2 separate regions of the Homo sapiens genome follow, and region 1 is linked to region 2. Evidence: fine-mapped expression QTL. A gene starts in region 2. The other region holds a variant in brackets. All regions are shown on one strand. Distances are from middle to middle.

Region 1 (5,364 bases), 110 kb after region 2:
CAACTTTTCTGCTGACAAACCGCAAACTGCCCGCGTCCACCCCCACTCGTCCCCCTTCCTTCCTGCCACAGTAGAAGGGTGGGGCTGGCGTGGCTATCCTGGCTGCGCCCACGCCCTCCTGCTGCCCAGCAACCGCCCCGGGTGTGGATTCCATCGCTCCCTGGGCTTCCAGTCCCTCCCACCAGCCCCTGCCCCGCTGTGCAGAATATGCTCGGACCTCCTAGGGCCACATAAAACCACCCCCTCAGCCAGACCAGTTCCTGGTCATCCTGGCCTCAGGGCTGGGCACTGGGTCAGCTTCTGAGCAGGCAGGAGCTCTGCTCATGTGGACCTGACACACATTGCATGAGCAGACGGGAGGAAAAGAAGCCAGTTCCTGGGAGGGAGTGCACTGGCGAAGGAGTGTGTGGCGTGGGCAGAGAGCAGAGGTCAGGGGCCTCCCTGAGAAGGGCAGTGCGACTGGCATCTGAGGGGTGAGGAGAAAGGCCTGGCCAGAGTCCCAGCTTTATGACCATTGCAGGGCAGCTTCTGGGCTGTGCAGCTCACACACACCTTCCCCTCCTTCCCCTCCTTCCCCTCCTCTCTGCCCTGGGGCCAGCCTCCCTCCTCCACTCCCCTGAAATGGCTCCCAGCCATAATTAGCACAGGACAGAAACAGCAAATGCTGGTCGGTGTGGTAGGCTCACGCCTGTAATCCCAGCACTTTGGAAGGCCGAGGCCGGTGGATCACTTGAAGTCAGGAGTTCGAGACCAGCCTGGCCAACATGGTGAAATCCCATCCCACTAAAAATACAAAAATTAGTTGGATGTGGTGGTGCGCACCTGTAATCCCAGCTGCTTGGGAGGCTGAGGCAGGAGAATCGCTTGAACCCGAGAGGTGGAGGTTGCAGTGAGCTGAGATCATGCCACTGCACTCCAGCCTGGGTGACAGAGCGAGACTCTATCTCAAAAAAAAAAAAAAGTCCTTAGAACAACCAAGGCCTTTCTAAGAGTGTGCCCTAAGCAAGGCTGTGTGCTGAATGCTTTGAATCATCTCATTTGATATAAACACCCTGCTAGGCACGATGGCTCATGCCTATAATCCCACACTTTGGGAGGCCAAGGTGGGAGGACCTCCTGAGACCGGGAGTTTGAGACCAGCCTGGGCAACATAGGAAGGTACCATTTCTACAAAAAAAAAAAAAAAAAAAATGGCATAGTAGTGCATGCCTGTGGGCCCAGCTACTCAGGAGGCTGAGGTGGGAGGATCACTTAAATCTGGGAGGTCAAGGCTACAGAAAGCCATGATTTTGCCACTGCACTCCAGCCTGGGCGACACAGACTTTGTCTCAAATTAGAAAAAAAAATACAAACACTCGGGCAGGGACTCTTATTATTCCCATTTGCAGATGAAGAAACAGAGTCTATGGAGATGATCCATAACTTGCCCAAGGCCCCGGGATAAGAATGTGGTGGGCAGGGATTGAAACCAGGCTGTCGGGACTGGAACCAGTTGCTCAGTTCCAGGTCACCCTCCCAGGTTGCGGGCAGAGGGGCAGGGCTGGAGAGCTAGGTGCAGTGGAGAGGGCTGGAGGGCAGAAAGCCTGTGTACTCCCCCACTGGGTCCTGACAAGGTTGAGCCAGGTGATATCCAGGGGTCCCTTCAGCCTATGGCCTATCCAGAGCTGTCCAACCAAAAGAAAATGGGGCCGGGTGCCGTGGCTCACGCCTGTAATCCTAGCACTTTGGGAGGCTGAGGCAGGCAGATTGCCAGAGCTCAGTAGTTTGAGACCAACCTGGGCAACACGGTGAAACCTCGTCTCTACTAAAATACAAAAAATTAGCTGGGTGTGGTGGTGGGTGCCTGTAGTCCCAGCTACTCCTGAGGCAGAGACAGGAGAATTGCTTGAACCTGGGAGACGGAGGTTGCAGTAAGCAGAGATCGCGCCACTGCACTCCAGCCTGGGAGACAGAGTGAGACTCTGTCTCCAAAAAAAAAAAAAAAAAAAAGAAAGAAAGGAAGAAAAGAAAATGATGGGAGCCAAATAGATCATAAATAAATAGATTTATGATCAAAATAGATTACAATTTGATTTATTACAATCAATAGATCAAATTTTCTAGTAGCCACATTAAAAAGAAAACAAGTGAAATTAATTTCAATAATAGATTTTATTGAATTTCATACATCCAAAATACAATTATTTCAATAGATATTTAATGTAAAAGGTTATTAGATATTTTACAGTCTGTGTTTCTTACCAAGGCCACAATTCCAATGTGTATTTTACACTCACAACCTGTCTCATTTTGTACCAGCCACATTTCAGGTGTTTGATAGTCACATGTGGCCTGTGCCTGTATTGGACAGAGCAGGTTCTCACCTGCATGTGTCAGAATCACCTAGAGCAGGGGTTAACAAGCGTTTTCCATAGAAGGCCAGATGGTGAATATTCTAGGCTCTTTGGGCCACACAACTGTCACAATGCTTCAGCTCTGCCATCGTAGTCTGAAAGCAGCTACAGACAATCCAGAAGTCAATAGGCATGGCTGTGTTCCAGTAACGTGTTCTTTACGAACACTGAAATTTGAATTTCGTATTTTCATGAATGACAAAAGATGGTTTTTCTTTTGATTTGTTTCCAACCATTTACAAATGTAAAACCATTTGTAGCTGGCAGTGAGCCAGCATTTGCCCACCCCTGACACTGGAGGGCTTGTCAAACACAGATTACTGGGCCCCATCCCAGGATTTCAGATTCAGTAGGTCTGGGGTGGGGCTGAGAATCTGCCCTTCCATGAAGTTCCCAGGTGATGTGCAGCTGCTGGTCCAGGGAACTCCCTTTGGGAACCACTGACCTAGAATAGATCAGAACGTTGGCAGAAAAAGGTATGATCTCAGTGTGGGTTTTTGGTCTCCCCAGGAAACTTGAGTTCACTGGGAGGGAGATCAGCCCACCCAGGCTGGAACCTTCTGAATCTTCCCAGGGCTTCTGGCTGCCCGCTTAGCACCCTGGTCACTTTAGAGAGAGATGCCGGGGGAGGATCGCAGCAGCCACCTTCCTCTGCCCCGCCGAGAAGGCTGAGGCTGCCGCCATCTGCACTGCTCCTGCATTTTCTCATCTCCCGCTCTCTGCCCAGCGGCTCCCACCCTGCACGACCCTGTTTCGCCCATCCCTTGCCAGCTCCTCACTCACTGCCCCTCTCACCCTGCCTTCGGGTGATTTCTGGCCCCTTGGCAAGTGTGTCTGTTTGATATTTTGATTCTTCTTTCTGCTCTTCTTTTTAGGGAACAAGGGAGCCGTGGGGGTGTCGTTCATGTTCAATGGAACCTCCTTAGGGTTCGTCAACAGCCACTTGACTTCAGGAAGTGAAAAGAAACTCAGGTAATGGA[AC/A]TCCTTCCCCCCAAGAGTGTGCATTTGGGCTGTCTGCCCAGACACGCCTCACACCTTTAAGCACCAGAAGGACCTGCTCAGCTCCTGCCTTTGACCTTGTGGATGTCCTGTGGCCTTTCAGGGCCCACCACAGTCTCATCAAAGGCAACTGCAGCACCATAGTGACCTCACGTGTGGAGGAATTTTGTCTGAAGGTCAGAAAAGATATTTCCTTGTGTCATTAGCCTGATGGACCGCTAACTAGCACTGTTTCTAAAGCAGAAAGCCTCCTCTGGGGCCTCCTTACAAATCCAAGCTGATCTTGCCTAGCTGGGGCCCAGGAATGAAGACAGCCATCTAGAATCTTCACTGTTCTGATTCTCTGCTGAGCAGATGCTGCTGCTCCTGGTCCCCTGCCCTCTGTACACCCAATGTGGCCTCAAATGCCCTTTGCATCCTGGCTGTGCCATATTTGCACACTAAGGAGTTCTGCTGCAGCAGGGCTGGAGGGCTAAGTCTCACTTCCCCCCACCTGCTATGCTCCTCGCCCCACACCTATGGCAGGAGTGACTTCCTGCCACAGTGGAGGGGGAACCAGTGACCCCGTGCTAGATGGCCGCTTTTTCCTTGCATTAGGCGAAACCAAAACTATATGAACATTCTCCGGTTCCTGGCCCTGGGCGACAAGAAGCTGAGTCCCTTTAACATCACTCACCGCTTCACGCACCTCTTCTGGTTTGGGGATCTTAACTACCGTGTGGATCTGCCTACCTGGGTAAGGGCTGCCCGCCTGGGGCTGGGGCTGGGGCTGTATGAGATGGAGGCTCCCTTGAGTCAGCTTGGGGCAGGTGGTCGTGGAGACATGTGAATCAAGTGGGCTGAGGCGGCTGCTCCCCTTGGGGGCTCAACGCTGTTTCCATTACTGAGCCTCAGCCGCTCCTCACGGTTCCCCTGTGCTCACACCCGGTTCCCATAACTGTCACAGCCACCCTGCCACCATCACTCTGCAGCCCGGGTCATCCAGCTGCCCGCCCCCAGCCCCGAAGCTTGTCAGGCCTGGATCAGCAGGGCTTCTCACCAGAGGCCCGGGCATGTTCTTGTTCCAGGAGGCAGAAACCATCATCCAGAAAATCAAGCAGCAGCAGTACGCAGACCTCCTGTCCCACGACCAGCTGCTCACAGAGAGGAGGGAGCAGAAGGTCTTCCTACACTTCGGTAAGAGCAGCAACCCCGGCTGGGAGCGGTGGCTCACACCTGTAATCCCAGCACTTTAGGAGGCCGAGGCGGGCGGATCACGAGATCAGGAGATGGAGACCATCCTGGCTAACACAGTGAAACCCCGTCTCTACTTAAAAAAATACAAAAAATTAGCCGGGTGTGGTGGCGGGTGCCTGTAGTCCCAGCTACTTGGGAGGCTGAGGCAGGAGGATGGTGTGAACCAGGGAGGCAGAGCTTGCAGTGAGCCAAGATCGCGCCACTGCACTCCAGCCTGGCCAACAAAGACAGACTCCGTCTCAAAAAAAAAAAAAAAAAAAGCAGCAGCCTCTCCTCTTGGAGCCTTTCCAGCCATCCTTTCGTCCCCTTTCCCCTGATTTCCTACCAGAAGAATAGGGAAAATTGGCCAGATGCAAAACCTGGGGAATCAGAATTAAAACGAAAGTCTCTCTGTTTCAGAGGAGGAAGAAATCACGTTTGCCCCAACCTACCGTTTTGAGAGACTGACTCGGGACAAATACGCCTACACCAAGCAGAAAGCGACAGGGGTGAGTCCTCTTCATAGACACCTTCCCTGCCCTCCATCTCCTCCCCGCTGGTGTCTGTTCCCAAAAGGTGAACAGAAAGTGTCTTCATCCATTAGGCAAAAAAAAAAGGAAAGAAAAAAATTAGAAAGCACATGTTGATTTGTGTTACAGAGTAAATGGGAAGCCACACTTGTGCACTGCTTTGAGCTGGGAAAATAACCCTTGTGATTTACCTTCTGTCCAGATACTCTAAGATGCTGAGAGGACTT
Region 2 (5,364 bases):
CCATGTGGTGATGCTGAGCTCTCCACATTGATCCTGCCAAGCCAGATGCAGGCAGACATCCCTGGAGAGTGAGACTGCTCTTGTATGTGGAGGGCCAGGGTGCAATCATCATCAAATGGGATCTCAAGGTAGGAATGCAGTGATTATGGCCTAACACATTCAAGAGAATATGGCTGGAAGATGTGTGGTTCTACCTTTATGCTATAAAATTTGGAACAGTAATTTTTTTTTTTTTTTACTGTGTCGCTCTATCACCCAGGCTGGAGTGCAGTGGCACGATCTCGACTCACTGCAATCTTCGCCTCCTGGGTTCAAGTGATTATCCTGCTCAGCCTCCAAAGTAGCTGTAGCTGCGATTATAGGCACGTACCACACCCACCTGATTTTTTTTTTTTTTTTTTTTAGTAGAGACAGGGTTTCACCATGTTGGCCAGGCTGGTCTCAAACTCCTGACCTCAGGTGATCCACTCCCCTCAGCCTCCCAAAGTGCTGGGATTACAGGTGTTAGCCACTGTGCCTGGCCACTCTCTAGCCATTATTTGAAGTCTTCATTGATAAATCACTATCCCTCACATGAGTTTGTGAATTTTGTAATACGTTAAAATTATTTATATTGACTGGAGACCTACAAAAAAAAAAAATCCACCCACCAAAAGGGCAGCTCTGATCTAGATACTGGGATTTCCTGAATGTGGAGGGCAGAAGGGTGGGGGACAAGCCAGCTGACCATGCTGGATAGATCAGGCAATTGGGTGGAAAAGGAAGCAAAGTTGGGATGGGCCTTAAAAATGAGGGAAGAGTGCCCGTGTGGCGTGTGTGCCAGGGGATCTCACTCTGTGGAATGGCAAGGACCGTGGGAATAGAGGTGTGAGAGGTGGGGGGCTGGGGGTTTGGGGGAAGCTCTCTAAGTAGGGCAGTCTTGGCATGGTAGGGGTCTCTAGAGATGAGTGGGTGGAGGTGTAAAGGGACCAGTATTGCAAATGGATCCTCCTGGTGGCGTGGTCCAGGACTTCATGGATGTTGGTGGAGGCCAGCAGGGAAGTGAGAAGGGTGTGAAGGTACACAATGGGAGCATAGGAGATGACCCCATAAGGAGGGGGTGGACAGGTGCTGAGTGGAGGCGTGGGTGGGGAATGAGAGGCCTCCACACTGGGCTGCTGCAGAGGTGGCGTGCTGCGGAAGGGCCGGAGCATGGAGGCCAGTTCCCATCACCACTCTATCCCCACGCCTGGCTCCCAGCCTGGCCAGAGGTCCTTGACTGGGAGTGCTTTGTCTGCCCTACAGACTCGCCTGCCATGTGTGTTGCTCAGCGGGGAGGTGCTGGGGGCCCTGTTCTGGGACAACCATCAGTGTGACACATGTTGAGCCCCTGGGCACATGTGAGCTCTTTTACGAGCTACGTCCTTCAAGTTAGACAAGAAGAAACCAAGGCCGAGAGAGAGAAGAAACTTGACCAGGTTCCCACAGCTTGAATGTGGTGGCGCTGCCTGGCTGGTGCCCCTTCCTGGAGGGAGTCTGTTGTCATGTCCTGGAGGCCAAGGCCTGGATGTGGGATGGTGGGGGCACTCTTTGTGCAGCGGGTCAACACGTGCCCCTTCGGCCTTGGTGGGCCGGACCCAAGGACGGAAGGTGCCCAGGTCTGGGGGCTGAGGGATGGGTGTCCACCGCAGAGCCCTCAGAAATGACTGGTCCTGGATGGCGGTCCCTGGAGAGGCAGCTCCTCTTTGAGTGGTGGGCATATGTGGCCATGCCCAGTCTTGGAGGCGGTGCAGTCCGACCGGCCACCCCGACTGCTGAGACGCAGGACTCAGCACCCAGTGTTGTCCTTGGCCAGGCGGCCAGCCTGCCCTGTGGGGCTTTGGGGTTCTCCTCTCCGAGCTTGTTTCCCCAGCATCCTGGAGAAGCCCAGGGAAAAACCCAGCCTATGTTCCCGCTGTAAACGGCCCACATCCCCTCCAAGCTCCCTTTGTGTGTCTCCAAGCTGGACTGCAGGGATCAGAGCTGTGCTGCCCGTGCAGCACCCACCCGCCCCTGGGAATGAGGGTAATGGGGTCACAGAGCCATCACTTGGACCTTGGCGCCCTCGGCTGGTGGCAGCCAAGGTCTCCCAGCACCCAGGCCGCTGGGAGTCTCTAAAGGGGAGGGGTGGGGCTCGACTGTCCCCTCCCCCTCAAGTTTGCTCTGTCCTGGGCAGGCCGTAGTCCCAGTTGAGAAGCTGTGCCCCCTTGGGTGTTTTGGAGGTTCAGGGTGGGTGCTGAAAAGCCCTGAGGGAGAGCAGAAGGCTCGGGGGCCTGTCTAGGGCATGGCATCCCACGTGGGTGTCAGCACGGCCGCAGAAGAACCACTTCTCTGGCCCACCCATGCCTGCTAGGCCATGCTTCTTCAGAAGTGGCCACAACTCTCCTGACGTCTCCAGAGCCGGTCATTCCACCCAGGGGGACTTCAGCTGCCACTGGACACTTCAATTGTACGCTGCGACCAGTTGCCAGGAAGGAGAGGGCTGGCAAGAGAGCCGCGGCAGCCGTGGCAGGGTGTAGGGGACGGTGGACGGCCAGGGCCCCCCCCTCTCTCTCTTTCTCTCTCTCTCTCTTGCTTGGTTTCTGTAATGAGGAAGTTCTCCGCAGCTCAGTTTCCTTTCCCTCACTGAGCGCCTGAAACAGGAAGTCAGTCAGTTAAGCTGGTGGCAGCAGCCGAGGCCACCAAGAGGCAACGGGCGGCAGGTTGCAGTGGAGGGGCCTCCGCTCCCCTCGGTGGTGTGTGGGTCCTGGGGGTGCCTGCCGGCCCGGCCGAGGAGGCCCACGCCCACCATGGTCCCCTGCTGGAACCATGGCAACATCACCCGCTCCAAGGCGGAGGAGCTGCTTTCCAGGACAGGCAAGGACGGGAGCTTCCTCGTGCGTGCCAGCGAGTCCATCTCCCGGGCATACGCGCTCTGCGTGCTGTGAGTACAACCTGCTCCCTCCCCGGGCACAGATATGACAGAGGGGCTTAGAGGGGGCCCAGCTTTGAGATGGGTTGTTCTTATGTCACAGGACAGAGTGATCTGACATGCACACTTCCCCGCCACCCTGTCATGGACCTTGTCCTTGGAGTTCAGAGAGCTGGTCTCATGGCAGGTTTTGCAGCCTTGGAGCTGTCAGAACCACTCTGAGGCCTGATGTTACACCCCAGCTTCCCATGAGCTGTATGGACCTTGTGGCTTCCTTGGAGTCTGGGGACCGAGAGAAGGGAGTTTGGGCTTTTGGAGCCAGGAGGAAGCTCAGGGCTCTGTGGAGGTGGGTGTGTTAGAGATCAGCTCAAAGATGCCCAGCTCAGAAACCCTGAGAAGAGCAAAGGTGGCAAGGGGGACCCTTCCTGGAGCACCCAGGCTTCGGGCCCCTGGAGGAAGCTGTTGTTTGGCGAGCCAAGAATATGGGGTGAGTTTAATCAAGAAAGGACTTTCCATTCAGTCAGAAGCTGCTTTCAGGGGCCTGAGAGCAGAGGAAGTCACCATTACCACCAGCGAGCAGCCTCTTCTCTCTCCTGAGCACTTGGCTGTGACCGCTGCCCACCCCCCACCCCCTCAATTTGGGTCTCTGTCACCATCAACTCCTCCCACTGCCCGGTTGGGGATGTTACTGAATGTACCAGCTGTGCTAACAATGGAGGAACCAGCCACTTGCTGAAGGTTCCTTTCTAAAACCCCCTTCCTGTCCAGCGTCTGAAGGAGGCCCTTGCCCTGCAGCTCTCGGTCTAATCATAGGGGGGCCTTGCCCTGCAGCTCTTGGTCTAATCATTTTGCCGGGGCCTCAGGCAGTGCCGGAGTGTAGTCAGGGAAATGTGTGTCCACCTGAACATCTCAAGTAGCATCCCTGGGCTGGCAGAAATGTTCCCCCGAGCAGCCAGGGCCTTGTGCTTCTCCAGGCAGGAGGGGAATTGGGTGATGAACCCAGACCTGTTTTGAATACTGACTCACAGCTGGGACCTGTCGTGCTAAGCATTTGTTAGCCCATTTCATCCTCACCACAACCTAAAGTGAAGGTCCTGTTAAAAGCCCCACTTTGCAGATGAGAAATCTGAGGCCCTGGCAGGTTAAGTGAGTGACAACAGTCAAAGCCACGGCCATCTGCCCCCAGAGGCTGCAGCTGAGACCAGCAGCCTGTGGCCCAACCTCTCCTGCTCCCAGTCCAGCGGGGCAGGCATGTAGCCTTGCAGGGCTGGAGAAAGAAGCAAGGGGAGCCACAGTGTTTACAGGGTCAGCTGGGGCACTGGAAACCAAGCCAGGCTCGCAGCTGGTCGCTGGCCTGTGCTGACAGTCTGCAGCCCCACCTCCAAAGACTGGTTTCCTGTGTCCCCTCTCTCATGCCTCAGGGGAAGGAACGCAGGCCCAGGCTGCCTGGACTTCCCCAGTGGGGACCTGCTGCTGCCGGGGCCTTAGAAGGAGCAGGAAGATTCTCTTAGGCCTCTCACAAGCCCAGTCTGACTCCACCTGGCCCATGTGGGTTACTTGGATTTCTCTCCTGGCCCAGTGGGATCTTGTCCTGGCTGTTTGGTGTTGGCTGAGCCGAGGGCTTCCAGGGCCCCATCTCATTAACCTTCAACACAGCCCTTTGACCAGGGCTTGCTTTGTGGTTGCTCAGGTTACAGACATGGGGCGTGGGTCTCTCTGACTCCGAGCCGTGAGCATCTTAACGTCTAGGATTAGCCTGAGCCAGAGTCAGAGCTGGAGAGGCCTTGGAGAAGCTCTGGTGCAACAGCCCTGGCTTTTCAGGAGGTAGACAGAGGGCAGAGAGCCTGAGGCCTTTGTCCACCATGCTGGCTGGGGTCAAAACTGCTGGGATCCAGGCCAGTTCTCGTATTCCTTCCTCTACCTCTTCTCTCTGAACCCTTGTCTGCACTGAGTTCTCTCAGAGTCATGATGGGTGTGCAGTGTCTGCTCCTTAGAGAGGGACCTGTGGTGCCTACAGATGTCCACTATCCTCTCAGCCGAAGCCTCGTCAGCCTCCTATCCTGAGGCTGCTGGGCTGCAAACACCAGGAGTCCCACCCCTTGGCCAGACAAACCCTGGGCTCAGTGTTTCCCTTTCTCCTCTGCTCAGGGTGGGAAGCTTCCCTTCCTGCAGGGTCAGGCTCCACTGTAGGCCGTGGGTTGCTATGGACCTGCAGACTTTCCATACATCTGCAGGCTTCATATGGCTGCCACCCTGGATTTTGCCAATTACGGAGATTTTAAAACTAAAAACTAATTAAATGAATGATAACAAACTGTCATCTTCCAACACCTCATTTCTTGAAAGAAAGCAGCCTTTGACACCAAAAGAGGCAGGAAGGGCATTAAAAAAAAAAAAGCCAGTCATTTAAAGCAAAGAGATTGAACTTCTTGAAA

Evidence for each region. PIP is the estimated chance that this variant, and not a neighbour inherited with it, causes the effect.
Region 1: its variant is fine-mapped to the expression of INPP5D in whole blood (TOPMed, PIP above 0.99).

What each region holds. Positions count from the first base shown.
Region 1 is chr2:233,166,037-233,171,400 of GRCh38, forward strand. INPP5D (inositol polyphosphate-5-phosphatase D) reads left to right here. Exons shown (of 27, transcript NM_001017915.3): 14 at 3,269-3,365; 15 at 3,990-4,128; 16 at 4,460-4,568; 17 at 5,028-5,116. Among named protein-coding and RNA genes, the nearest start is that of ATG16L1, 83 kb to the right of the region's middle. The variant AC/A (reference allele first, on the strand shown) is at 3,374.
Region 2 is chr2:233,057,672-233,063,035 of GRCh38, forward strand. INPP5D (inositol polyphosphate-5-phosphatase D) reads left to right here and starts at 2,671. Exons shown (of 27, transcript NM_001017915.3): 1 at 2,671-2,941. The coding sequence starts at 2,808. RefSeq lists enhancers at 2,346-2,625, 3,226-3,315, 4,402-4,995, 4,996-5,364 and silencers at 2,826-2,905, 4,976-5,025.